2 separate regions of the Homo sapiens genome follow, and region 2 is linked to region 1. The links come from fine-mapping of genetic effects on gene expression. A gene starts in region 1. The other region holds a variant in brackets. All regions are shown on one strand. Distances are between the middles of the regions. Region 1 holds the start of RNASE1 (ribonuclease A family member 1, pancreatic). Region 2 holds the start of EGILA (EGFR interacting lncRNA).

Region 1 (12,229 bases):
AGGAATTATCTGAGTGAAGAGTACAACTAGATGTTTTCCATTCTTTTTCAAAATCAGGGGCTAAATGTCAATATTTTATAATGGCCTCTTTGAATCCCCCAGAGATTTATCCTTTAAAGGTATAGATAGAGTCATAAGCTTGGTTAAAGTAGCTTCTTTGGCATAATGATCTGCTAGAGAATTTCCTTTAGTTTCCATATTGTCTCTTTTTATATGGACCTCTACCTATATAATAGCCACTTCTCTAGGAAGTGGGGGTGCATCTGAAAGTTCCTTAACTTGCTGTCCATTTCTAATGCCTATTTTCTTTTCTTTTCTTTTCTTTTTGAGACGGAGTTTTTGCTCTTGTTGCCCAGGCTGGAGTACAATGGCACGATCTCGGCTCACCGCAACCTCTGCCTCCTGGGTTCAAGCGATTCTCCTGCCTCAGCCTTCCTGAGTGGCTGGGATTACAGGCATGTGCCACCATGCCCGGCTAATTTTGTATGTTTAATAGAGACAGGGTTTCTCCATGCTGGTCAGGTTGGTCTCGAACTCCCAACCTCAGGTGATCCACCCGCCTCAGCCTCCCAAAGTGCTGGGATTACAGGTACGAGCCACCATGCCTGGTCTTCTAATGCCTATTTTCAAAGCATCTCAAAATCATATGCTATTTCAAAAGCATACCTGCAGTCTGTATATATGTTTGCTCTCTGGTCTTTGTTTAGGTGACAAATTCTAGTAAATGCAATACATTTTGCTATCTGGGCTGATTTTACTGCAGGTAGTAGACTTTTTCTTAAGAAGAGTTTAAAATAGGGGTAGCATAGCCTATTAATAATGTAGGGAACCAGAATATGCCAGCTCAATAATTTTGAGTTGATTATTTTGAAAAACAGTAAATGCAGGAAAAACTCAAAAAACAGGGCTCATCATTTCCACAGCTGCCTCTCCCCTCTTCCTTCCCTGCTGTGAAAGAACTATAAATGTCCTTTTTTTTTTTTTAAACAGTGTCTCTCTCTGTCACCCAGGCTGGAGTACAGTGGTACAATCACGACTCACTGCAGCCTCCATCTCCAGTGTTCTTCCACCTCATCCCCCTGAGTAGCTGAGACTACAGGAGCATGCCACCATGCATGGCTAGTTTTGTATATTTTGTAGAAAAAGGGTTTCGCCACCTTGCCCAGGCTGGTCTCAAACTCCTAAACTCAAGCAATCTGCCTGCCTTGGCCTCCCACAGGGCTGGGATTACAGGAGTGAGCCACTATGCCTAGCCAAGTTTCCCTTTTGTAAGAGAAATTTCCATTTATATTCCCATTTGTATGGATGTCTCCCTTTCCTGTGCCAGGAAGAGGAGGACTTAATCACGGAGGACTTATCAATGGAGAAGACAACCAACTTGAATTTGCTTAACAAACTTTACTAAACAACCCTTATATACTATACATTTCCTAGTCCGCTTGTCGCAACCTCCCCAGAAGCTCAAAATCCCTTTCCTATGTGCAGAGACAAAAGTGACTCCATCTTGAATGCTAATCTACCATGTTGACGTCTGATTAACCATGTCCCGGGAATGCCTCCTGATTTCTACTTTATTTACTGTCTCTAGTGTAGAAACATGTATTCACTATAAATCCTGCCTTTAGATCAAAACAACCTTAACGTTATCATGCAAATTATGGGCTATGACAAACACAGCATTCTTGCCTGTTCTGAAGAGTTGCCTTTCATTGTCTCTATATAGCACGTACCCCTTTTCCCTATGGTATATAAGCTCTGGGTCTGGGGAATAACAGTGCTGAGATTTACATGTCTTGCTGCTGCCCAAGACGACACTTCTGGCTATAAGTTCCCCAATAGAATAAAACACGCTTTACTGACAAACTGAATTTGTCTGCCTTTCTTTAGTTTCTAGGCTCCTTCAGCATTTGGGGCCACTTCACATATGTGGCCCTTTCATGGAACACTGTCTTGTCACTTCTGCACAATTTTCTTTGTCAAAATGGCCTATAAACTCTCAGGTTTAATTGCTTCTTTGAGTCTTCACTTCTTTTTTTATGAAGACTTCCATATTCATGTAGAATATTAATATTAAATTAAATTTTTATGCCTTTTCTCCTGTTAAATCTGTCTTTTGTCATTTTAATTTACAGGGCCCCCAGCCCTCTAGGAGGGTAAAGGAAGAATTGATTTTTCTTTCCTCAGTGTACTAACTTCAAGTTTCAATTCTGGGGTATGTTCCATCAATAAATCATATTAGGTCCGGGTTCTCAATAGGAGTTGCTAATAAATCTGACTGACATGCAGAATGTTTCCTACTGAGGTAAGACAATCAAGAGGCTCCCCTTCTGGTAGGGACAGAGGGTGGCAGAATTCAGTGTGTTGCAGAGATGAGTAGTAATTTATGAGAGGGAGAGAGGGATAGAATCTTATAAGAGGTTAATCGGCTGCCTGAAGTGTGCAGTGAGTTCTCAGTCAGGTGTAATGCCTGTGCTGCGTGAGAAACCAGGAGGTCAAGCAGGGAGTCTAGAACAAGTTCAGCAGAAGCAACAACAAATGTTGCCATGGCATCTACTGCCCTAAGACAAGCGGGGCTATGCCTCTGCAACTGGGTCAAGGATAAGGCTGCAGTAAGGGCTTCTGATGGTTCCCCATTGAAGTGCAATTAAAGCTCCAAGGGCTTGTCTAGATTGCTATGCATAAATAGACAAAATGGCTTCCTGTAGTTTCAGGATTCCTAGGGCCAGGGGCTGTTGAAGAGCCTTATTATAGTTACAGAAGATCTGTTCACATCTGAACTGTGGTTCTGAAATCATCTTGCTGGGTGGAGGCCACTTTTGTGCAGCCACGCCCAGTGCCTTAGTGGGGTCCACCTGACTAACCAAACCATCCCACCAGGCGCCCTTCAGGTGAGTCCTGTGCCTTATTTATGTCTGTATCCCACAGTCTAATGAATGAATGAACACATTCTAACTTGACTATTCAAGAGAATAAAAGTATTATTAAAGACTCAGAAAAATAAAATACAGGTGGGGGCTGGGGGAGTAAGGAAACTGTAGGGGCCAAGGAAAAATTCCCCTTTCACCCTCCAAAGGTTTGCTGAAAATCAACTGACAAAAGACAGATTGATAGGAAAAAACGCATACAAATTGATTTGATCGTAGTTTTACACGACACGGGAGCCTTCAGAAGACCCAAAGATAACAGGGGAAAGTGGGCATTCTTACACTTGGATATCAACAAAGTATGAACAGCTGTGTAGAAATATGACTGGACAACAGGGCGATCTAATGAAAATAGACTGAGTGGGGAAACCCAGCAAGGCCTCCCTGTCTAGATTCTTCTTGGCCTCTCTGAGCATTCGTCCTTTTTTTCTGGGTATGGGGGGCAGGACCCTCTCTGGAATGAGGATCTTACGACCTACAATCACACAAGGTAGGTCAGATAATTTCACTATGGCCACTTTTTACACAGAAAGGCTGAAACAATCTGAATACACAGCACGAAGGGATATTTTGATAATTCTTAGAGGTATCCAAATTGTTACTCAGCAAAAAAACAGGTCTCTTTCTAGGAGGGCATTCTGCTGCTAATAAATATGATATTCTTTGTATTTTTTCCCCAAAAAGAATTTGAGATTTGGGATTTAAGTTTATCTTTAGTTCCTCTACTCAATTCCGACCTACAGGGTCAGTGGTTACTGTAGATAAGAACAGCCCCATCCTCTCGATGCCCCCAGAGCAGGGGTGGAGGGTGGGTGGGAAGTGGCCAGAACTGGGTGAGCGCACCCTAGAGGCCTCCTCCTCCTCCCTATTCAGTTACTCCCCCTTTCTTCTCCAGATCTGGGAAGCCTTCCAGCTGGGGGCAGCAGGACAGCCTCCATTCCCCCCGACCCCGCCTCCCATCCCCGGGAGAGGTAGCGTTGGGAGAATGCCCTCCTAGAAAGAGACTTGGGTTTTGCTCCCTAGGAGCCCTGGAATAGCTTTGGCCAGAATTCCCTATCTCCCATTAGAACCTCTCCTTTGCGTCCTTTGTTAACCTCCAAGTCTACTTGGTGAAAACGCCCACGAAGAAGTAACAAGGACTTTGTTCCTAGTGTGCCAGGTTTGGGCACCAGTGCTGTAGTGGCTTTCTCTGCTGCTCCTTGTGCATCAGCAGACAGATGTGGTTCACATAGGAAGAAAGACTAACGTAGGCAAAGATTTGCTCTTTCTTCAGCAGCCCTAGAAAGACGGCGGCCTGGGTGATTCACCACTCCTTCCTCACGTCCTTGATTTTATTTGAACTGAGCTCCAGATGCTCCTCCCACCCTTTTCCTCTTGGAAGCCAAACCCCTTTGTAATCTGTATAAGGTCCACACCCCGGGAGCTGAGTGATTGCAGAAACTGGCCTTCCATCTCTCTCAGACACCAAGCTGCAGATCCAGGTAAGCAGCCCAAGAGGTGTTCTCAGGTGCCGCTTCTGCTTCAGGGTTGCAGAAGAGGGAGCTAGGGCCAGTCCACAGCACTGAGAAAGATTGGGTGATGCTAGCGCTGAAAAAATGTGGCCCAGGCAAACATCAGCTGGGGGCAGAGGGGTCAGGGTGGAACGTGCAGGCTGCAGAGCATCCATGGGACTGGAGAAGAAGGAGCCTCCAAATTGGGGGAGGCCAGCGTTTCTCTCTGGAATACAATGGAATCTTTTATGATGCCAGTGTCAGGCACTGGCCTGAGTTCCCTTATGCTCCAAGACAACAAGGCTCTGTCACCCATGGCCCTGGATGTCGGGGATACAATTTGGTTCATGATTTATTCAAACTGATGTTTCGATGAGCCATTTGAGCACTGGGTACAAATGTATTTTGGATCAAAGAAACTCCAGTATTCAAAGATAGGAACTGACAGGATTTTAGGTCACTTTGTAGGTCACCACCTAGAGGGGAGGAAGACCTCGCTTTGGAGAGTGGGAATAAAACGCTCGTGGAAAAGGGTACACGTGAGTGTCTCATTACACGAAAAACCTCAGGAAGTAGGATGGACGTCTTTCTGGCTGACCTGAAACAGAAAGTGTAAACCAGGCAAGCCATAGGTGGGAGCTGGAGTTCTTTTTCTAAGAGGGCTCTTTTCCTTCTCTCTCCTTTTCTCAATTAGGCTTTTCTGGGAAAGTGAGGCCACCATGGCTCTGGAGAAGTCTCTTGTCCGGCTCCTTCTGCTTGTCCTGATACTGCTGGTGCTGGGCTGGGTCCAGCCTTCCCTGGGCAAGGAATCCCGGGCCAAGAAATTCCAGCGGCAGCATATGGACTCAGACAGTTCCCCCAGCAGCAGCTCCACCTACTGTAACCAAATGATGAGGCGCCGGAATATGACACAGGGGCGGTGCAAACCAGTGAACACCTTTGTGCACGAGCCCCTGGTAGATGTCCAGAATGTCTGTTTCCAGGAAAAGGTCACCTGCAAGAACGGGCAGGGCAACTGCTACAAGAGCAACTCCAGCATGCACATCACAGACTGCCGCCTGACAAACGGCTCCAGGTACCCCAACTGTGCATACCGGACCAGCCCGAAGGAGAGACACATCATTGTGGCCTGTGAAGGGAGCCCATATGTGCCAGTCCACTTTGATGCTTCTGTGGAGGACTCTACCTAAGGTCAGAGCAGCGAGATACCCCACCTCCCTCAACCTCATCCTCTCCACAGCTGCCTCTTCCCTCTTCCTTCCCTGCTGTGAAAGAAGTAACTACAGTTAGGGCTCCTATTCAACACACACATGCTTCCCTTTCCTGAGTCCCATCCCTGCGTGATTTTGGGGGTGAAGAGTGGGTTGTGAGGTGGGCCCCATGTTAACCCCTCCACTCTTTCTTTCAATAAAACGCAGTTGCAAACACCTGATTTCTGAAGCGGTTCTGTCTAGGTACTGTTTCTGGCATTGCCTTCCAGCAAGGGGTAAGAACTGTAAATCTGATTCACTTTGGAGAACGGTGAATGGAGTAATTAAATGCCTTCCCTTCTGACTTGGATTTTAGTGGCTTGAGAAAATTCCTTTCCTTGTAGATTCCCTGATGCCAAACATAAAACTGTTAAGTGTGGGCTGTTTTAGACAAAAGGGAGCTACAGCCTGGGACACTGCCATGCAGGGTGAACTGACAGAGGGGTGAAGCTCAAATACAATCATTCTCTGGCACAGAAGGAAGGCAAGTGTGACCTCAGGAAGATCCTGCTTAGCCTCAGGGTGGGGAAGAGGACTCAATGAAATTATGATCCTAAATTTCCATTTTCCTTTTTTTTTTTTGAGTGAGCTATTACTAAATCAGAAAAATGGGCACCTCTTAGTTGGAAAGCCAGAACCTTACATTTTAGAGCCAGAAGTGACTTTGGAGAGCACGGAATTGAGGGATAGCAAGTAGATTTCAGTTTGTGTACCAACTCTAATTGGAAGTGCCGGTCGGGCGTGGTGGCTCACACCTATAATTCCAGCACTTTGGGAGGTTGAGGCAGGTGGATCACCTGAGGTCAGGAGTTCAAGACCAGCCTGACCAGTATGGTGAAACCCCCTCTCTACTAAAAATACAAAAAGTAGTGGGGCGTGGTGGCAGGTGCCTGTAATCCAGCTACTAGGGAGGCTGAGGCAGGAGAATCACTTGAACCTGGGAGGCGGAGGTTGCAGTGAGCTGAGATGGTGCCACTTCACTCCAGCCTGGGCAATAAGAGTGAAACTCTGTTTCAAAAAAAAAAAAAAGGAAGTGCCTACCCAAAATGCTGTAGCAAAAAATTCTGGACAGTGGTGTGGTTGAACAACAGCCTCTATCGAAGGCACGAGAGGGGGAAGGGTGTGTGTGCCACACATTTGCCATCCCTGACCAAATGTGACCCCTGCCTTTCCGGTGACTTGCACATGGCTTGTTGCTAGTTAGTGGCACAGCCGGGACTACACCCTAGGTTTCCTGACTTCCAAGCCATTGTTCTAACTCAGGAAGCCATTGCTCTAACTCAGGAAGAAAGCTCCCCTCCTCAGTAAGTGCTGTGGAGCGGTAGCTCTCTCCCAGAGCTTGCTGGTGGGCTCTCACAGGCTCCCAGTGTTCTTAGCCTGTGAGTCCACTCCACTCTTGGCAACCCTTCCTGACAGCCACTGAAAGACTACCTTTGGCATCTGTCAACACTTAACCTGGGAGGCAGAGGTTGCAGTGAGCCGACATCGCGCCACTGCATTCCAGCCTGAGTGACAGAGCAAGATTCCATCTCACAGGGTGGGGGGTGGGGAAGCTTGCCATATAAAGAATACTTTCTGCAGGGCCTGTGCGGAGATCCACTGTCTTGTGGCTGCCTGAGACATGGCTTCTATTTGTAAGTCCCTATTAAATGTTTCTTTCTGAGAAACTGAACTTGTCATGAAGTGGGATTTAAGGAACCAGAGAGACCAGATGGCGTGCAGGAGGGTGTTTATTTTAAGGTGTACACTGGCCCAGCGGACTTGTGTCCTAAAAGGCTGAGCCCAAGAACAAAGAAAATGAGTCCCTTTTAAGCATTTTGAGGCAGGAACTAAGTGAAGCAGGCTTACAGAAGTGAGAACAAAAGGCCGCTGTGACACTTTTGGAACATGTCTTACATCTCTGTGAGAACTTGGTTTGCAGCTTATGCTTATCTGTCTTGTGACCTTGCAGCTGTGCAGGGAAGAAAGAAACAGGAGTTTACAGAGCCTACAAAATATGTGGAGGATAGATATGGTTAACGTTTCTTGGGACAGACAGTTAATATTCTCTTCTAACTTTAACTTCAGGGGGGCTACTTAAATTCTTTTCAGCCTTGGTTAATACAGCAATTCATTCTATGAGCTATTGTTATTTCTCTTATTATTATTACGTATGCTATTATTTGTTATTTTCTTAGTTTCCTACTTCAGTCAAGCCCTTTCTTTGGCCTCTCATCTCCCTCAGCCCTTGGGGGTACATTGGCATAGACCTGCTCACTGCAGAACAAGGAAGGAGGAAGCAGGAGAAACCAAACCTGCCATACCGTGTTCTTGAACTTCTGGCCTCCAGTGAGAAAATGAATTTCTGGCTGGGCATGCTGCCTCACGCCTGTAACCCCAGCACTTTGGGAGGCTGAGGCAGGAGGATTGCTTGAGCTCAGGAGTTCAAGAGCAGCCTGGGCAACATAGTGAGACCCCCGTCTCTACAAAAAAATATTAAAAAATTAGCCAGGCAAGGTTGCAAACACCTATAGTCCCAGCTACTCGGGAGGCTGAGATGGAGGATCACTTGAGCCTTGGGGGTCGAGGCTGCGCTCCAGCCTGGGCAACAATGAGACCCTGTCTCAAAATTTTAAAAAATAAATAAATAAATAAATGCATTTCTATCGTTTGAGCCGCCCATTTTGTTATGGCAGCCCTAGGAAATGAATACACCCTTTAACCAATTCTTCCACTTCTCTTGGATTGCATCCGTAGCTGCCCTGACACATCCCTATGGCGGGCTGGTCTAAATTAGATGCCACGGTGGTGGGGATGGGGTGGCTGTGGGGTGAATAGAAGTGTCTGTGGGGACAAATGAACATCTACTTCTTCCTGGGACAGCTGGATGGAGTGGAGGGACTTTAGAAACCGTTAACAGGTCTTAGGGAACTGGCCCTGCGTCCCTTCTGAGGCTGCTGTAAGGGGAAAAGAAAAAGTAGGGGCATGAAAGCCCTTGGCAAGATGTGAAGCGAGGCAGCCTTCGTGCATGCTTGGTCAGTTGTGTACCTCCAGCTAGTTAGTGTGCAACAGCCCTCACGCTTCCTCTGCAACTTCTCCCCTGCCATCAGCTGAGCTTTCATGTTCTCAGTTCATGTTCTCGGTTCATGAGTGTTCATGTTCTCAGTTACTCTTGGAATATGGTTCAATTCAGAAATTCCCAATGCACTATTAATGAACATAGAGAGACGGATATACTATTCTACCAAAAAAAAAATCTGCCCTTTTAAAATCCAGGGAATGTCTGGACATACACATTCTTAAGTCAAAGGAACATTTTTCTAGCATTTGTGAAAGAAGGAGTGAATGAATGGAGGTTGGAAGGAGTGCAGTAGTTACAAAGATTGGCTTATTTTTTATGGGTCTAGCCTGGATTTTAAAAACCTGAGACAGGATAACAACTCCAAGTGCCTGTGGGACTTCTGTAAAATGGAAATATTCATAACACTTAATTAGAAGTACTGTGGTAAAGATGACATTCAGAGAAAGCGTAGTGTTCAGCGTTCTGTGGACACTCAGAAAGTTAGCCACTATCACCGAGGCATGGGGTATGGTGTTTCAGAGCCTTGGCTCTGGAGTGAAACAGACCTGTTTCACACTCCACTGTGCCTTTTGGGAGTAGTGTGGCCGCAGGCAGGGAACGTAACTTTTTTAACATCAGGTTCCCTATGTAAAATATCATGATAAACATGGTATCAACTTCAGAGATTTGTTGAGGATTAGTTGAGGTCACATATAAAAAATATTTAGGACAATGTCTGTCCATAATAAAAGCTATTACTCTTAGAATCAAGAATCATACATCCTATTCTATCACTTGCATGCAACCAATCAAGACTGGGGACAGAATTGACAATGTCTCACTACAGTTTTCTGTATTTATAATTCAAGGTGCCAACATATGATTTTTGTTTGTTTGAGGGCCTCAGATGAAAGAGGGGCCAGGAACATTAGTACTGGAACTCACAGGAGTATGAATTCTATCATCCCAAGAGAGGGGATAACCAGAGATCTAGAAAGCACAGAAGATCAGGCAGAGACAGTAGAAAGGCCTAAACTTGATTTCAAGAACCGACTCTCAAAAGAGTGAGTATAAAACCAGTGTATACACCAAGTACAGTCATGTGTTGCTGAATGATGGGGATACAATGTGTCATTGAGTGACTTCATCATTGTTGGGAACCTTACAGACTATATTACCTAAAACTAGGCAGTATAGCTTGCTCTACATCTAGGCTATATGGTATAACCTATTGCTCCTAGGTTACAAACCTGTTCAGCAGTTTACTGTACTGAATACTATAGGCAATTGTAACACAATGGTAAATATTTGTGTACATAAACATAGATAAGTTACAGTAAAAATATGGTATAAAAGGTAAGAAATGGTACACCTCTGTAAGACACTTATGTGTGGAGCTTATAGAATTAGAAGCTACGGCCAGGTGCAGTGGCTCACGCCTGTAATCCCAGCACTTTGGGAGGCCGAGGCGGGTGGATCATGAGGTCAGGAGTTCGAAACCAGCCTGGACAACATGGCAAAACCCCGTCTCTACTAAAAATACAAAAATTAGCCAGGCATGGTGGCATGTGCCTGTAATCCCAGCTACTCAGGAGGCTGGGGCAGGAGAATCACTTGAACCTGGGAGGCAGAGGTTGCAGTGAGCCGAGATCGTGCCACTGCACTCCAGCCTGGGTGACAGAGCAAGATTCGGTCTCAAAAAAAAAAAAAAAAATTAAAAGTTGCTCTGGGTGAGTCAGTGGGTGAGTGGTGAGTGATTGTGCAGGCCTAGGACATTGCTGTGCACTACTGTAGACTTTATAAACACTGTATCATTAGGGCACACTGAACTTATGAAAAAATTTTCTTTCTTCAATAATAAATTAACCTTAGCTTACTTTAACTTTTAAACTTTATACATTTTTAAATAAAAAAAATTTTGACTCTTTTATAATAACACGTAGCTTAAAACACATTATACAGCTGTACAAAAATGTTTTCTTTGTATCCTTATTCTATAGCTTTTTTCTTCTTCTTCTTTTTTTTTTTTTTGAGACAGGATCTCGCTCTCTTGCCCAGGCTGGAGAGCAGTGGCACAATCTTGGCTCACGGCAACCTCTGCCTCCCCACCTCAGCCTCCTGAGTAGCTGGAACTACAGGCATGTGTCACCATGCCAGCTAAGTTTTGTATATTTTGTAGAGACAGGGTCTCACCATGTTGCTCAGGCTTATCTGTTTTTTTTTTCTATTTAAAAAAATTTTTAAACTTTTTTGTTAAAACTAAGATACAGGCTGGGTATGGTGGCTCACACCTGTAATCCCAGCACTTTGGGAGGCCGAGGCAGGTGGATCACCTGAGGTCAGGAGCTTGAGACCAGCCTGACCAACATGGCAAAACCCCGTCTTTATTAAAAATACAAAAATTAGCTGGGCGTGGTGGCACATGCCTGTAATCTCAGTTACTTGGGAGGCTGAGGCAGGAGAATTGCTTGAACCCAGGAGGCAGAGGTTGCAGTGAGCTGAGATTGCGCCATTGCCACTATATATATATGTATATATATATTATATATATACACATATATGTATGTATGTGTGTATGTGTGTATATGTGTGTGTATATATATACACACACATATATAAATTATATATATTATATTATATATATTATATTATATATGTGTGTGTATATATACACACGTGTATATATATACACACGTGAGTATATATACACGTGCGTATATATACACATGAAATGTAACATAACATTTTCTTTTTTTTTTTTGAGTTGCTCTGTCTCTCAGGCTGGGGTGCAGTGGCATGATGTTGGCTCACTGTAACCTCCACCTCCTGGATTCAAGAGATTCTCCTGCCTCAGCCTCCTGAGTAGCTGGGACTACAGGCACACACCACTATGCCCAGCTAATTTTTGTGGTTTTAGTAGAGATGGAGTTTCACCAAGTTGGCCAGGCTGGTCTCAAACTCCTGACCTCAGGTGATCCACCCGCCTTAGCCTCCCAAAATGCTGGGATTATAGGTGCGAAGTACTGCGCCCAGCCTAACATAACATTTTCTAAGTAACATTTGGGTCAAAGAAGAAATCAAAAGAAAAAAATTAAAATATATACAATATATAAAAAATTGGGTGATGATAAGAAAGTACAATTAAGAGAAAGTTTTGTGAAAGTTGTCAGAATCAAAACGGAGTCACTAATGTTAAAGAAACCCTGACAAGCCTGGGTGCAGTGGCTCACGCCTGTAATCTAAACACTTTGGGTGGCCAAGGTGGGCGGATCACTTGAGGCCAGGAGTTCCACACCAGCCTAGACAAAATGGTGAAACCCCGTCTCTACTAAAAAAAAAAAAAAAAAAAAAAAAAATTAGCTGGGTTTGGTGGCACAGCTGTAATCCCAGCCACTTGGGAAGCTGAGGCACAAGAATCACTTAAACCCAGGAGGCAGAGATTGCAGTGAGTCAAGATTGCACAGCTGCACTCCAGCCCGGGTGACAGAGTGAGACTCTATCTCAGAAAAACAAACAAACAACAAC
Region 2 (15,823 bases), 91 kb after region 1:
ACACCCAAGTCAAGAAAGTGCCGCCCCCTCCAGAGTCGTGGGCCATAGTCCCAGGGGAAAACCCTACCAAACTAAAGCTAAGAAATTTTTTTTTTTTTTGAGACAGAGTCTTGCTCTGTTGCCCAGGCTGGAGTGCAGTGGTGCGATCTTCACTCACTGCAACCTCCACCTCCCGGGTTCGAGCAATTCTCCCGCCTCAGCCTTCCGAGTAGCTGGGATTACAGGCGTGTACCACTACGCCTGTATAATTTTTGTACTTTTAGTAGAGATGGGGTTTCACCATGTTGGCCAGGCTGGTCTTGAACTCCTGACCTCAAACGATCCACCTGTCTCGACCTCCCAAAGTGCTGGGATTACAGGCGTGAGCCAAGCTAAGAAAAATTTAACTCTCTTATTACTCCTTCTTCTTTCCTCATTCTATTGCTGACCACCTCATTATTAATGTAACAAAGTCAATTTCACCTCAAACTATTACATTTGATGCTTGCCTTGTTATACCTTGTGGAGACTTGTCAAGTTAAAGACAGCTCTCCAATTCAGAAAAGTACCTCTGTCCTTCCCGGCTCTCCTCAGACTGGACATTAGTGAATGGGGATCATTTAGTCTGGAGAGATTTCAATAAAGACCCCAGTATCAGCTGGGAGTCTTGCTCCTGCAAGACAGAGCTTTTATGCCACAGTTGGTCCAACATTCTGTGGACCACTAAAGAGCAAGGATGAGCTGCCCCAACCAGTGGTTGTAATTTCCTAAAGTCATATATTCACTTTACTAAAGGAACAGCTTCACCTAGCTGTCAGCTGAACCGTGCAATCCAATACAGGTTATTATCTCAAACCCTCAAAGCTCTTCCCCTTCTCTAAGCCGGTTCCCTTCTTTAAGCCGGTTTTATGGTGTGGGGGCTGAGGTTTCAGGAACAGACCCTATCAGATCCTTTGAAACACAATTCATTGATCCTCTGCCGCCTACACCTTCCCTTAAGCCTTCTTCCAGAAGCTCTCACAACAAAACTGTTGTTCTCCTCCATCTAATGACAAGACCAAGGTAGTTATTATAGAAGTTAAAGACCTAAAACAAACTTTGGCAATTGAGACAGAATATCAAGATGCTAATGCCTGGTTGGAGTGGATCAAACATTCCATCCACACTTTAAACAAAAGCATTTGTTATGCTTGTGCGCACGGCAGACCAGAAGCCCAGATTGTCCCCTTTCCATTAGGATAGTCCTTTAGTCTACTAGGCATGGGCTGTATGGTTACTTTTTTCCAGGATTACACAGCCTGGGGTAAAAAGTCGTGTCAAGCTCTCTCTGCTATATCCTGAGGTTCAATACCCTGCAGGTCAGCCCCCAAGGTCCACTCAGCTTCTGTCCCCTGACGCTAAGTTCACTTCATATCTCTCACTACAGGGAGGAAACTTAGCATTCCTTGGAGACCTAAAAAGATGCAGTGAGCTTAAGACTTTCCAAGAGCTTACCAATCAGTCAGCCCTTGTTCATCCCCAAGCATATGTATGGTGGTATTGTGGTGGACCTTTACTGGACTCTCTGCCAAGTAACTGGAGCAGCACTTGTGCTCTAGTTTAATTGGCTATCCCTTCCACCCTAGCATTTCATCAACCAGAGAGAGGAAAAATACAACATCATAAAACAAGGGAAGCTCCTTATGGGTCTTTCAACTCCCACATTTATTTAGATGCAATTGGAGTCCCATGAGGAGTACCAGATAAATTTAAAGATCAAGATTAAATAGCTGCAGGATTTGAGTCAAGATTAAATAGCTGCAGGATTTTGTGGGTGACAATTAATAAAAACATAGATTGGATAAATTACGTCTATTATAATTAGCAGTGGTTTATTAATTACACCAGGGATGCTGTCAAAGGGATAGCAGAACAATTGGGGCCCACTAGCCAGATGGCCTGGGAAAACAGAATGGCCCTAGATGTGATATTAGCTGAAAAAGGCAGTGTTGGTGTTATGATTAAAACTCAGGGCTGTACCTTTATCCCAAGCAACACTGCCCCCACTGGGAGCATAACAAGGGTCTTACAAGGACTTACTGCTTTATCCAATGAATTAGTTAAAGATTCTGGAGTCAATAACCCTTTCTCAGGATGGCTAGAAAGGTGGTTCAGTAGATGGAAAAGATCATAGCCTCGATTCTTACTTCTCTTGCAGCCGTAATAGGTGTACTCATTCTTGTTGGGTATTGTGTCATACCATGCGTCCGTGGGGCAGTGCAAAGAAACAGCACCTACTAAAACCTCCCTTAACTTTCCTCCACCTTATTCAGAAAAGCTTTCTTCTTTTAGAGGATCAAGTCAAGCAGCAAAGCCAAGACATGTTAAAAAGGTTTGAAGAGGAAGGCCTATGAAAATTGAAAGGGGGGAGATTGTAGGATACAGTAAATTCCTCTTCAGAGTTAGCCTGTTAACTTCCTTTAAAATTCAAGATGGTGGCTGGGCGTGGTGGCTCATGCCTGTAATCCCAGCACTTTGGGAGGCCAAGGCAGGCAGAACATGAGGTCAGGAGATTGAGACCATCCTGGCTAACATGGTGAAACCCTGTCTCTACTAAAAAATACAAAAAAATCAGCCGGGCGTGGTGGCGGGTGCCTGTAATCCCAGCTACTCAGGAGGCTGAGGCAGGAGAATGGCGTGAACCCAGGAGGCGGAGCTTGCAGTGAGCCTAGATTGCACCACTGCACTCCAGCCTGGGTGACAGAGCAAGACTCCATCTCAAAAAAAAAAAAAAATTCAAGAGGGAGAAAAAAATCATTTAAGTACAATGAGTTCTGAGTTCCTCTTCAAAGAACAAATACGTCAGTATGTTCAGCTTCCCTGTTCTTTGTTCTCCATTTTGAAGTTTAACTTCCTTGTTCTTTACACCTCCTTGCCTCTAGTTTCAGTAAACAACCCCCTCCTAGCCTCTATCACCTGTTCTGTCCTTAGGCATCCTTACTCTCCTGTTCTGTAACTGTCCTTCCCTGATGAAACTACTCACCCCACCACTCCAGCTCATACACTCACTCTCTTTAAAATTTCCAACTGGAATTAGCTTAGACTGTGTGGTCCAACCCTAGCCAACAGGGGAAAGACACAGCAGTAGGGACTAGCTGCATTAGGAATAAGACGCCCTTCTCCTCCCTTGTCTGGTGTGCTCTCACCATTGCTCCATCTGAGAGATGCACCCTTCTATAGAAGTAAATTGCTTTGCTGAGAAAATTTTTGCCTGAGTGCTATTTTCACTCTGTGGCACCGAGCACTTACTTCCAACAGTTTGGTTACATTTTTTATCACCCAGCATGGGGCTATATGTCTCTACTGGTCTAGCGTGCCTGGTTTCCGATGGATGGAGCAATTGGCTGTGGCATCATGCCAGGGCTTACTCATTCATGCTACCAGGCAGAGCAACAACTTCTCATGAGGATTAGCTGCTCGTGGCTAGCTGACCTCCCAGCTGGGATTCTAGGGTTGTCCCAGCAGCTGCCAAGAACATCTTTTCCCTCCTTCCCCCTCTGTGGCATCAGCTGCCTGCAATGCTTTATTAGTATAAGGAAAATGATAGTTGAGGAAGTTGACAGGATTCAAGACTGGGTAAATCAAACCAGTTTGCATGCTAGAAATCCTCTGTCTCTGCCATTTGGGCTTTATGCCATTTGGACCTGACACAGGTCTTTTGCAGTATCAGTTAGCCTAAGATTTATTAACTTCCCAGTCTCCTTCTACAGGAATTGGTTCAGGAGTACTCTGTGTTGATCTGTGTGTTTGTGTTCTTTTGATCTCTCCCCTGAGAATGGGCAACTTGACTTCCATTCCATCTAAGTGGCCATTGGGCTGTATATTGGCTTATTGGAAAGCTTATAGCTATGAACTCATAACAAAAAAGATAATGATTTTTTTTCATTGTAACACTGTTTGGCCTATGTATGTGTTGGAATCTGAAAAATGGTGGCTACTGAACAGTGATTTACATTAGTACACCTTATTACAGTTGGCGTTATTTTGCCTAAGATCTGGGAAATGAAATGAGATTCCATGTGTTTAAGCATTTATTACATAACAAAGACTCAGCACATGAGGGGTCTATGTGAATGACGTAGAGAAAAGGGAAAAAGAGATTTCTCTTTCCAGATAGTAAGACCCAAAAGGAAGAGGATATTGATGATATGGGCCTCATAAATATCTTAAATTTCCCCTCCCATGTGGTACTGGGGGCACCAGCCCTCCCAGGATTACCAAATGTAGCCCAGGACCCGGAGAGGCCAAGGTGTCAGCTCCTCTCCCCAGGATGGGGAAGGAATAGAAATGGCTGCTCCACTTGCAGATTTTACTTGGGACCCCAACAATGGAGGAATGGCCCTGTCCAGTCATTATAAAAAGCATGTGTTGGCAGGGTTAAAGAGAAGAATGTAAAAGAGCTTAAATAAAGCCAGGGCAGTTCTCCCAAAGGCAGATGAGAACCCCTGTGAATTTCTGGAGTGCATTTACCAGGTTTACCACAAGTGTATGGACTATGATCCAGAAGCTCCTGAGAATATGAGAATGGTAAACGTGACTTTCATCCAATATTAAACGAAAACTGCAGAAACTGGAGGGGGTATTTGGAATAAACCTTTCCCAACTGCTGGACATTGCCTTCAGAGTATATAATGCCAGGAAGGCCAAAAAGCTAAAGCAAGCCATGATATACTTGGAATTAGTGGAAAGAATGTATATCCGAAAAGGAAAAACCAGGCACAGGGAGGTGGCCAGAACAAAACTCTAGGTAATGATCAGTCTGCCCCCTGCAAGGAGGAAGGTCATTGGAAATCTGAGTGCCCCAAATTAAAGAAAAGACAGGGAAACCAGAAGAAGGGAGACACAGTGACAGAGAAGAAACATACTGGCTGATGGTAAAGCAGGACTGTAGCTCAGATAGTGAAGGAGGCCCAAATCTTTTGGAGCAGGTTGTAATTTCCCCACAGGAACCTCAGGTACGATTGACAATGGGGAACAAATTGATTGACTTTTTAATCAATACTGGTGTGACTTATTCAGGTAGAAACACTAAAGAAACTGAAAGTACTAGGAAAACAGTGCCTGTGATGGTTGTCGCTGGCAAGATGCAGCAAACAGCCTTTCTCCAGACCCTGGAGAGTCTGGAGACTGCCGGACACAGAGATCTGGAGCTGAGACACAGTTTCCTCTATATGCTGGAATACCAAATTCCTTTGCTGGAGTGAGATTTGCTTTGTAAACTAAATTGCCATGTGACGTTTTTCTCCAGAAAAACAACAACTTCATCTGCAGGTCCTGCCAGAGCAAGCTTTGCAGCTGCAGATGCTGCTCACACACCCCGAGGAAGAAAAAGAATGCCTCCTGCCAGCAATCTGTGAGCAAGTAAGTAGTCATGAGGGCAGATGGGACCACAGGTAGTGCTGAAAATACACAGCCTGTGTGCACAGAAATAAATGAAGGGGCTAAGGTATTCCCCAAACACAGTGCCCTCTAAAAAGAGAGGCTTTAGAGGGGATACAACCTATATTACAGAAGTTTCTAAAAAATGGACAAATATGTCCTTACAGATCTCCATACAATGCCCCTATCCTGACTGTTAAAAACCCACACTCAAATGAATATTGATTTGTACAAGATTTGGGAACCATTAATGACATTGTTCAAGACATTCACCCAACTATGCCCATCCTTTACACCTTACTAACTGATAAACCAGGGCAGTATGGGTAGTTTTCGGTATTAGACTTAAAAGATACTTTTTTTTTTTTTTTTTTTTTTGCATCCTGATTGAAGAGAGGGACCAGATGCTGTTCACCTTTGAGTGGCAAGACCTGGAAACAAAAAACACCTTCCAATATTGTTAGGCTGTATTTTCTTAAGGTTTTAAAAACTCACCCACCATCTTTGGCAAAATATTGGCAAAGGGCTTCAGAGATTTTCAACTAGATGATGGGGTTCTGCTAAAATACTTGGATGACTTGTTAATCGCAAGCCAAGACTATGAGAGGTGCCTATCTAACACTATCTTAATCTTAAATTATTTGATATAATACGGACGTAACATATCACCTCAGAAAACTCAGATTTGTAAACAAGAAGTGACCTATCTTGGCTTCTGACTAAAAACAAGGAAAGCAGAGCTTGATGTCCAACCAGAAACAGGTGATAGCAGCAATAAAGGCCCCTGGGAATGGAAGACACTGTGGGGGGTTTTAGGTGTGGCAGGTTTCTGCTGAATCTGAATCCCTAATTTTGGACTCATAGTCAAACCTCTCTACAAGGCTCTAAAGGGATTAGATTCAGGAGCCCTAAACTGGATGGCTGAATGCCTTCAGGCATTTGATACCATCAAAAAAAAAAAAAAAAATAGTGTCAGCTCCAGCATTAGGACTGCCCAATTCTTGAAAGCTATTTAGACTCTATATCCATGAAAACCAGGGCACAGGACAGGAAATACTAATTCAACTACGTGGGAATTCCCCACAACCCATAGCCTACTTTCCCAAACAACTGGAGCAGATTACCAGAGGATGGCCACCTTGTCTTCAGGCCGTGGCAGCTACGTGTGATATCTTACAGGAAGCAGAAAAATTCACCCTAGGACAGCCCATTACTGCATTTGTGCCTTATCAAGTGTTAACCTTATTGTAACAAAAGGGAGGTTACTGGATGATAGCGGGGCATATGGGCAAATACCAAGCCAGCCTATTAGATAACAGAAATGTTTTCTCCAAACCACCACAGTCTTGAATCCTGCCACCTTGCTCCCAGCCACTGAGTCCAACTATGAACTGGAGCATAATTGTTTAGAAATTCTTGATGCAGTCTATTCCAGCAGACCAGATCTGTCAGATCATCTGATGGCCACTCCGGACTGGGAGCTATACACTGACTGAAGCAGTTTCACAGAAGGAGGACAACGCCAGGCCAGGTATGCTCCAGTGACCCTAGACAAAGTAGTAGAAGCCTATGTCCCCGCTGCTGGTACTTCAGCACAAAAAGCTGAATGGATTGCTCTCATCAGGGCCTTAAAACAGTCTCAAGAGAAATGGGTAAACATTTACACCTACTCCAAGTATGCCTTCTTGGTAGTGTATGCCCGTGGGGTCATTCAGAAAGAAAGGGGATTCTTAACCTCAAGAAATAAAGACATTAAACACCTGCTGGAAATTTTAGCTTTGTCAGAGGCAGTTGTTCTGCCAACTCAAGTTGCTATTATGCACTGCCAAGGCCACCAAAAGGATGACTCCCCAATAACCAAAGGGAATCAAGTGGCTGATAAAGCTGCAAAGCAGGCCACTCAAGAAACATATTTACTTGGGACCTTAATACTCCATTTAAACTTGTCAGAATTTAAACTCCACTACACTGAATGAAATGAAGAATGCACACATGAGTGGACATTGACCAACACAGACCCTTGTTCCTCATGGAAAGCTAACACTCATGGGATATTACTCTCTGAGGCCCTGGTATACCCAGTCCTGAAAGACCTGCATGAGGGGACACACTATGGCAGAGATGGACTGGCTCACCTGGTGTAGCCATATCTCAAAGGGCCACACCTTCAAAAGATCATTCAAAAGATTATACAAGCATGTTATCTAT[A/G]TACCCCAAATGATTCAAGAACTGCATGCAACTCTTCCCAGAGGAGGATACAATACAAAGGAATATGACCATTCGAGGACTGGCAGGTTGATTTCACCCAGATGCCAAAAACACTGGGATTTATAAGTACCTACTAGTGTTTGTAGACACATTTTCTGGAAAGGTTGAAGCTTACCCGAGCAAGAGATTGAAGCCTATCCGAACAAGTCTGAGAAAGCTGCAGAAGTAGCTAAGGCTCTGCTAAAAGAAATCATTCCTCGATTTGGACTTCCTTACTCCATACCAAGCAACAATAATCCTTCTTTAATTTCTGAGATCACACAAAGGATAAGCCAAGCATTACAGATCAAATGGAAATGACACTCTTGTTGGAGGCCACAATCAACTGGAAAGACTGAAAAGATGATCCACATGCTAAAAAACAAAAACAAAAACAAAAACAAAACAAAACAAACAAACAAAAAAACCAAAAAAAACCCCTGGCAAAACTCTATCGGGAAACAGATTTAAAATGGTAAAGGGTTTTACCTATTGCCCTGCTATGGATTGGGGTAGCACCCTGAAGTGGGCTTAAATTAAGCCTTTTTGAAATTGTGTGTGGGAGACCCTTCTGAAGTTCTTGGCCAGGGACCCCACCCTTGGACTTAATAAATTAATCAAGAATTAAACAATATGTACAACAACTAAGACATAAATCACTAACCCTGCACAAGTTTGTTCTTTTTGTTCTTTCCAGTTTTATGTGTCTTACAAAAAAGCCCCTTCACCCTTTTCATCCAAGGATAAAGTGCCGCTAAAATCTTGGTAAAAACAAGGACTGGACCAACAACAGCCAGCCAAAAAGTGGACAGGTCATTATGATGTTTTATTAACTACTCATTCATCTGTTAAGCTGGCTGGAGTCAAACCACGCATACATCACATTTCGGTAAAAATCGCCCCTCCCCAACCTGACACAGCAGACAATCAACCTGGTTGGACTTGTGAGCCAACTGGAGAACTGAAGCTACTGCTTAAGAAAAATCTTTTTGTACTATAGGATTAAATTTCTGTTATTCTTTATCATAATGAGTAAACTTTTTTGACATCTGCTAAAACTAGTCTATTTCTACAGTGGGCATAACATTATGCAGATAGTCTACACTAAGATGCTTGCTGGGTATGTGGATTGCTACCCATCTCTAGCACTTCTGGGCTACTTTAGTGAGTATCACCCCTGCAGGGGACTGATTAGATACATTTACAAACGTATATGAAAAACTGTTCATGGGAAAATCAGGACCTTGGTAACTTAAGGTAATATTTTTTAAAAATGGCCTGGCATTAATATAACGCTTCAGAATCCAGATCCTGGAAAACTCTTCATTATAACCGGACTATCCAAAGGACCTCTGAGTATGCAATCCCTCTCTTAAAGGAGTTTTCCTAGATGGCCCCCAAGATTTTGGCTACTAATAACCATTACACGGTAGGTGAGTTTTTATCAAATTTGGGACGATTACCTCTGGATGATCTCCACTATTAGTCACTTAACCCAAATTGCCACTTCATGTTGGGAACAAAGGAATCACTCTTAGAATCATTGGCCGAATGTTACTAAAAATGTGGATAGGATGCCTCTACATCAATATGAACATTCTTTAGTGCTATATTAGACAAACCTGTTTACCACTGATTGGACACAGACCCAAAATTTGGTGGCTGGTCCCCAGTGGAACTCAATAGTTATGTGAAACTAATCTTCGGCCATGTCTACCTGATGGATGGATAGGGCAGTGCACGTTAGGACCCCCATAGGTCCGGGGCTGATTAACAAAAACCACCAGGCAGCCTGCACACTTTCCAGATGTGTTACACCAATGGACCAGGCCGGTTTTCCCTTCCTACGACCATCTCCTGTCCCTTGTTTTCCCCCAAGCAGGCTTAGAAAGCATCATCTGGCATATTGAGGCACTTACAAATTATAGCAAGTGCTGAAAGACACATTTAAGGGCATCTCATTAGTAACCTCTGAAATGACTATGATGGGAAAAGTAGTCTTGCAAAACCACATGGCCCTTGATGTACTCACAGCTGCTGGGAGGGACCTTGACCCATAATTGAAACTAAATGTTTTGTGTATATCCTAGGTAATTTGCGAAACATCTCCTTAGCCCTTCAAGACGTGCACAGACAAATCAATGCTATGTCTGACCCCACAATGTTCCTAAACCAGTGGTTATCTTCATGGTTTGGATACGGACCTACTTGGTGGAAAAAACTGCTAGTAGTTCCAGCTATGATTATAGGAATAGGTATATTCTCTATGGGTTATACTCTTGTTGCACCATATGTGTGATATTGCAAGATTGTGTTTTCCTTAATTGGAAAGGCTCCTAACTCCCAGGTCAATGATGCTGTAAAAAATCACTTCCATAAGTCAAGGAATGCATGAATACTTCCAACTCCAGGTAAATAAATTCCATTCTTCAGCTCCCTAGTGATGCCCTCATTCAGCAGGAAGTAGCTAGAAAGAAATTGACACCTGATCTCCCATAGAAATGAAACAGGAATTGGCAGTGGGGAGTTTGTAGCTGGAATAATCAGCCTGCTTCAATAATGAATAGCCTCACCCTTTGATTTATTCAGTATCTAGCCGTATCCTTGCTTAAGAAACCCAGGGGCTAATCTTGAAATAAACCGGGCATGAATTTGAGATTGTGGAATCCTACATTCTCAGAAAAATCACTGAGGGGGGTTAATCCATAAGCTAGTTGCAGTCATGGTGATGCCAGCCAGACCTCCAGGTGATCCGTTACTGAAGATAGCCATCAGAGTAAGACATGCAAACCTGCACCCTGCACCACTCCTGCTCATAGTTTCCATGCCTCCTACTTCTTAAAATCCCTTTAGCTAGCCTAAAATTTTGAAATAGTCTTTGAGGCGCTAGTCCACCATCTCCTCAGGTTGCTAGCTCTTGAATAAACCTGCTTTTCCTGCACCAACTCTTGTCTTGCAAGTCTTGCTTTTGAGCAGTGAGCAGTGATCAGCTGACCCTTAGTTTGGTTACACTATCACTCAGGAAATTCCAAGCATTTTAGAAGGTCTGTGGCAGGAACCAGGAACTAAGTTCAAATTTATTTTTTATTATACCACAGGTCCCAACTCCCATGACTACCTGGATGGTGACAAAGACGAATTATCTCTTCATCCTTCTTTCTCACTCTAAATATACACAGACATGCTATTAGGAGGGAAAACTTTCCCTCTACCAACTTTGGTTCAGTGGGTGGGAGCCTGTGAATTAACTATAGACAGGTTAGCAGGGGGAAAGAAAACAAGTTGTATTCATAACTTGTGGAAGCATTCAGATGAAGAGGCTTGATGAAGAGCTAGAGACAGAAGTTTAGTTATCAACTCATAGGGGAAAAGAAGGAGGGAGAAATGACTTCTATAGGAAAACAAATGACTTTTGGGAAAGACAAATAGAAGCTTTGGATAAAGTTTTACACAATTTTCTTGGAATATCTCCTGTCTGGGTGAAGTAATCCTCACACGGTTAACAAGAATCCTGGACAAAAATATAATTATGAGTAAGTGTTAATCAGGCTACACTTTGACCCACTTCCTTGTAACCAAAACTCACGAACACTAGCTACTGATAATTTGCATTCTCATTGTTCCCATAGATAAGATCTTTGACATTAGAATCATAAGGCTTTTGTTTAAGAATTGTTTATGCAGATCCTGAATTCCGGCAGAACAGCTGACACCACCAACTTTAAAGAGCCCAACTGATGAACTGATCAGCATGAGAATACTGTTTTTTCATCTCTCTGTCCCATGACTTCACTCTGCATTCTTCAACCAATTAGTGATCTCTTATTTCCACCTACTCCAAATCCTTAAAAACAACAGCCTCAAACTCTTTGAGGAAATGGATTTGAGGTTTCCTTCCATCTTTTGGTTCAGCAGCCCTGCAATTAAACCTCTTTCTCTGCTGCAACCCAGTGTCTTGGCATATTGACATGCTGTGCACATCAGGCAAAAGACCTATTACCATTACATGAGGACCCCTCCGGAGGGAGATAATGGTGGGGGCATTTCTGGGAGGCTCTGCTTTAGTCAGGTGAGAGAAGTTCAGGTAAGATTTCTTTCTGTATCTGCTGTAATTCAAATGTTTTCAGTTTTGTCAGTTTTGCCCTTAAACATGTGCACACACACACACACACACACACACACACACACTCACACTTCCCTTCTTAAGCAGCTAGCATCTTCATATATCTCTGCTCCTGTCATGTGCGTCCATGTGAAGAGACCACCAAACAGGCTTTGTGTGAGCTATAAAGCTTTTTAATCACCTGGGTGCAGGCAGACTGAGTCCGAAAAAGGAGTCAGCAAAGGGAGATGGGGTGGGGCAGTTTTATAAGATTTGGGTAGGTAGTGGAAAATTACAGTCAAAGTGGGTTATTCTCTTGCAGGCAGGGGCAGGGGTTACAAGGTGCTCAGTGGGGAGGTTCTGAGACTCATTGTCTAGGAGAAGGAATGTCACAAGGTTAATTGATCAGTTAAGGTGGGGCAGGAACAAATCACAATGGTGGAATGTCATCAGTTAAGGCAGGAACTGGCTATTTTCACTTCTTTTGTGGTTCTTCAGTTGCTTCAGGCCATCTGGATGTATACTTGCAGGCTTGGGCTCAGAGGTCTGACATTTCCTGTCTTCTTATATTAATAAGAAAAACAAAACAAAATAGTGGTGAGGTGTTGGAGCGGCAAAAATTTTGGGGGGTGGTATGGAGAGATAATGGGCAATGTTTCTCAGGGCTGCTTCAAGTGGGATTAGGGGCAGCATGGGAACCTAGGGTGGGAGAGATTAAACTGAAGAAAGATTTGGGCATCAAGGGTGATATTGTGGGGTTGTTAGAAGGAGCATTTGTCATACAGAATGATTGATGATGGCCTGAATGCAGTTTTGTATGAATTGAGAAACTGATCAGAAGACACAAGGTCTAAATAAGAGAAGGAGAAAAGCATGTATTAAAGGACTAAAAATTGGGAGGGCTCAGGACATCCAATTAGAGAGTGCCTAAGGGGGTTCAGCATAATTATTTGCTTGGTTGGTGAGTTTTTGGGCGCTATCCTTGAGTTTTTTTTATGTTGTCATATACTAGGCCAGAGTGATTTTGGTAGAAACAACACTCTTCATTTAAAAATATACAGAGTCCCCCTTTTTCAGCAGTGAGTAAGTCAAGGGCATATTCCTGTCTTCTTATATTAATAATAAGAAAAACAAAACAAAATAGTAGTGAAGTGTTGGTGTCATGAGGGGAACAGGAAGCTCTTGGGTCCCATTTGCAAGTTGATTTTTGGGGGTAAGGAAAACTAGTGTGCATGTGCCTGTCTAATTAACAGGTAGACACATGTAGGGGAGGAGCCACAGGGGAAGAAGAGACCTTGTGTAAGGCGAAACTGGAAATGTAAAGTGAAAAGATGAGAAAGAGAAAAACTGGCCATGAGGGACAGAAGTTGAAACGCCAGCTGCTTGTTTAGCTACCTTATTAGCATAAGCATTGCCCTGAGTGATGGGATCTGATGCCTTTTGTTGGCCTTTACAGTGAATGGCCTCAGTTTTCTTGGAAGTAGAGCAGCTTTAAGAAGAGGTTTTATTAAGGAGGCATTAATGATGGAGGACCCTTGTGTAGTGAGGAAACTTCTTTCTGCCCATATAACAGCATGGTGGTGAAGGATGTGGAAGGCATACCTGGAATTGGTATAGATATTGACACGTAGTTCCTTTGCAAGAATGAGGGCTCGAGTTAAGGCAATGATTTCAGCTTGTTGAGAGGTAGCAGAAGGGGGCAGGCCTGTAGCCTCAATGATAGATGTGGAAGATACTATAGCATAGCCTGCCTTTGCCAGTGATTGGCGATTGGACCTGGAAGAACTACCATCAATAAACCAAGTGTGGTCTGGGTAGGGAACAGGAAAGAGGAAAATATGGGGAAAAGGGGAGAATGCCACGTGGATTAGAGGGATACAGTCATGGGGCTCAGATGCAGTATCAGGAATAAGATGAGAGGCTGGATTGAAGTCTGGACTAGGAACAATGGTAATTGTGGGAGACTCAACAAATAGTGAGTACAGTTGAAGGAGCTGGGGCACAGAAAGTATACGTGTCAAGCGTGAGGAGGAGAATAGATTTGGAAAGTTACAGGAACAGTAGAGAGTAAGTGGAGCATAGCTTGTAATTTTGAGGGCTTCCAGAAGTATTAAAGCTGTGGCTGCTGCTGCATGCACACATGAGGGCCACCCCAGAATTGGGAGGTCAAGTTGTTTTGATAGAAAGGCAGCAGGTCACGGGCCTGGCTCCTGTGTGAGGACTCTGGCAGCACAGCCTTGTATTTCAGCTGTGTGTAAGGAAAAAGAATGGGACGAGTCGGGGAGTGCTAGTGTGGAAGCGGTCTCCAGGGCGTTTTTGAGAGAGTGAAAAGAAGAATGGGGAAAAGACTTAGGGTCCATGGGATCAGTTAAGTTGCCCTTTCTGAGCTTGTAAAGTGGTTTCGTCAGGATAGCGACGCCTGATATCCAGAATCGGAAATATCCAACAGTGCCTAAGAAGGAAAGGAGTTGTTGTTTGGTGGTGGGGACTGGGGTTTGAGAGATCAGCTGGACACAATCAGCAAGGAGAGCACGTGTGTTTTCATGAAGAATTATGCTGAGATAGGTAACAGATGAGGAAGAAATTTGGGCTTTGGAGGGGGATACATGATATCCTTTTGAGAACAGATATTGGAGGAACAGGAGGGTGTCCCGTTGAGAAGATTTGTAGGAGGGGCTATAAAGTAGAAGGTCATCAAAATATTGAATAAGGTGAGAAGCAGATGGACAGAAAGAAAGTAGATCATGAGAAAGGGCTTGACTGAAGTAATGGGGGCTGTCCCTGAAGCCTTGTGGCAGTACAGCCCAGGTAAGTTGCTGAGGCTGATGGGTGTCAGGATCAGTCCAGGTAAAAGCAAAGAGAGGCTGGGATGACAGGTGCAGGGGAATAGTGAAAAAAGCATCTTTAAGATCAAGAACAGAATAGTGAGCTGTGGAGGAATTTATTGAGGACAAAAGGGTGTACGGGTTGGGCACCACAGAGTGGATAGGCAAAACAATTTGGTTGATAAGGTGCAGATCCTGAACTAACCTGTAAGGCTTGTCCAGTTTTTGGACAAGTAAAATGGGAGAATTGTAAGGAGAGCTTGTAGGCTTTAAAAGGCCATGCTGTAACAGGCAAGTGATAACAGGCTTTAGTCCCCTCAAAGCCTGTTGTGGGATGGCATACTGGCATTGAGAGGAGTAAGGGTGATTAGGTTTTAAAGGGATGGTAAGGGGTGCATGATCGGTCACCAAGGAAGGAGCACAGGTATCCTATACTTGTGGATTAAGGTAGGGAGACAGAAGAGGAGTATGTGAACTGGGGAAAAGGGTGGGAATAGGTGTGACTGTAGCCCAGGAATAGTCAGGGAAGCAGATAATTTAGTTAAAATGTCTCAACCTAATAAGGGAGGTGGGCAGGTGGGGATAACTAAAAAGGAGTGCATAAAAAATGTTGTCCAAGTTGGCACCAGAGTTGGGGAGTTTTAAAAGCCTGGCCATCAATATGCACAACAGTTATGGAGGCAAGAGAAACAGGCCCTTGAAAAGAAGGTAATGTGGAGTGGGTGGCCTCCATATTGATCAAGAAGGGGATGGACTTACCCTCCACTGTAAGAGTTACCGAAAGCATCTGTGATGGTCCAGGAGGCTTCTGAGATAATTGAGCCACGTCAGTCTTCAGCCACTAAGCCAAGAAGATCTGGGAAGGAGTCAGTCAGAGAGCCTTGGGCCAGAATTCCAGGGGCTCTGGGAGTGGCTGCTGGGCGAGTTGGACAGTCCGGTTTCCAGTGGGGTCCCGCACAGATGGGACATGGCTTAGGAGGAATCCCGGGCTGCAGGCATTCCTTGGCCCAGTGGCCAGATTTCTAGCACTTGAAGCAAGATCCTGGGGGAGGAGGTCCTGGAGGAACACCTGGCCACTGCAGTTCAGGCATTTTGAAGTTCTTGTGTGCTGGAGATGTGGCTGGGGCTTCTCTCATAGTGGAGGCAAGTAATTGCAACTCAGAAATATGTTGCCACTTGGCTGCCTCTTCTCTATTATTGTACACCTTGAAGGCGAGGTTAATTAAGTCCTGTTGTGGGGTTTGAGGGCCAG

The links.
Region 2: its variant is fine-mapped to the expression of RNASE1 in whole blood (INTERVAL, PIP 0.94).

Annotation. Positions count from the first base shown.
Region 1 is chr14:20,794,973-20,807,201 of GRCh38, reverse strand. It overlaps RNASE1 (ribonuclease A family member 1, pancreatic), which reads left to right and starts at 4,358. Exons shown (of 2, transcript NM_002933.5): 1 at 4,358-4,405; 2 at 5,109-5,974. The coding sequence starts at 5,134. The coding sequence ends at 5,604. LOC107984671 (a long non-coding RNA gene) reads left to right here and starts at 6,673. Exons shown (of 3, transcript XR_001750624.2): 1 at 6,673-7,298. All of the region lies in intron 3 of LOC105370397 (a long non-coding RNA gene), which reads right to left.
Region 2 is chr14:20,702,637-20,718,459 of GRCh38, reverse strand. EGILA (EGFR interacting lncRNA) reads left to right here and starts at 11,519. Exons shown (of 4, transcript NR_174964.1): 1 at 11,519-11,713. LOC124903282 (a long non-coding RNA gene) reads left to right here and starts at 2,737. Exons shown (of 2, transcript XR_007064061.1): 1 at 2,737-5,379; 2 at 6,742-8,667. The variant A/G (reference allele first, on the strand shown) is at 7,606.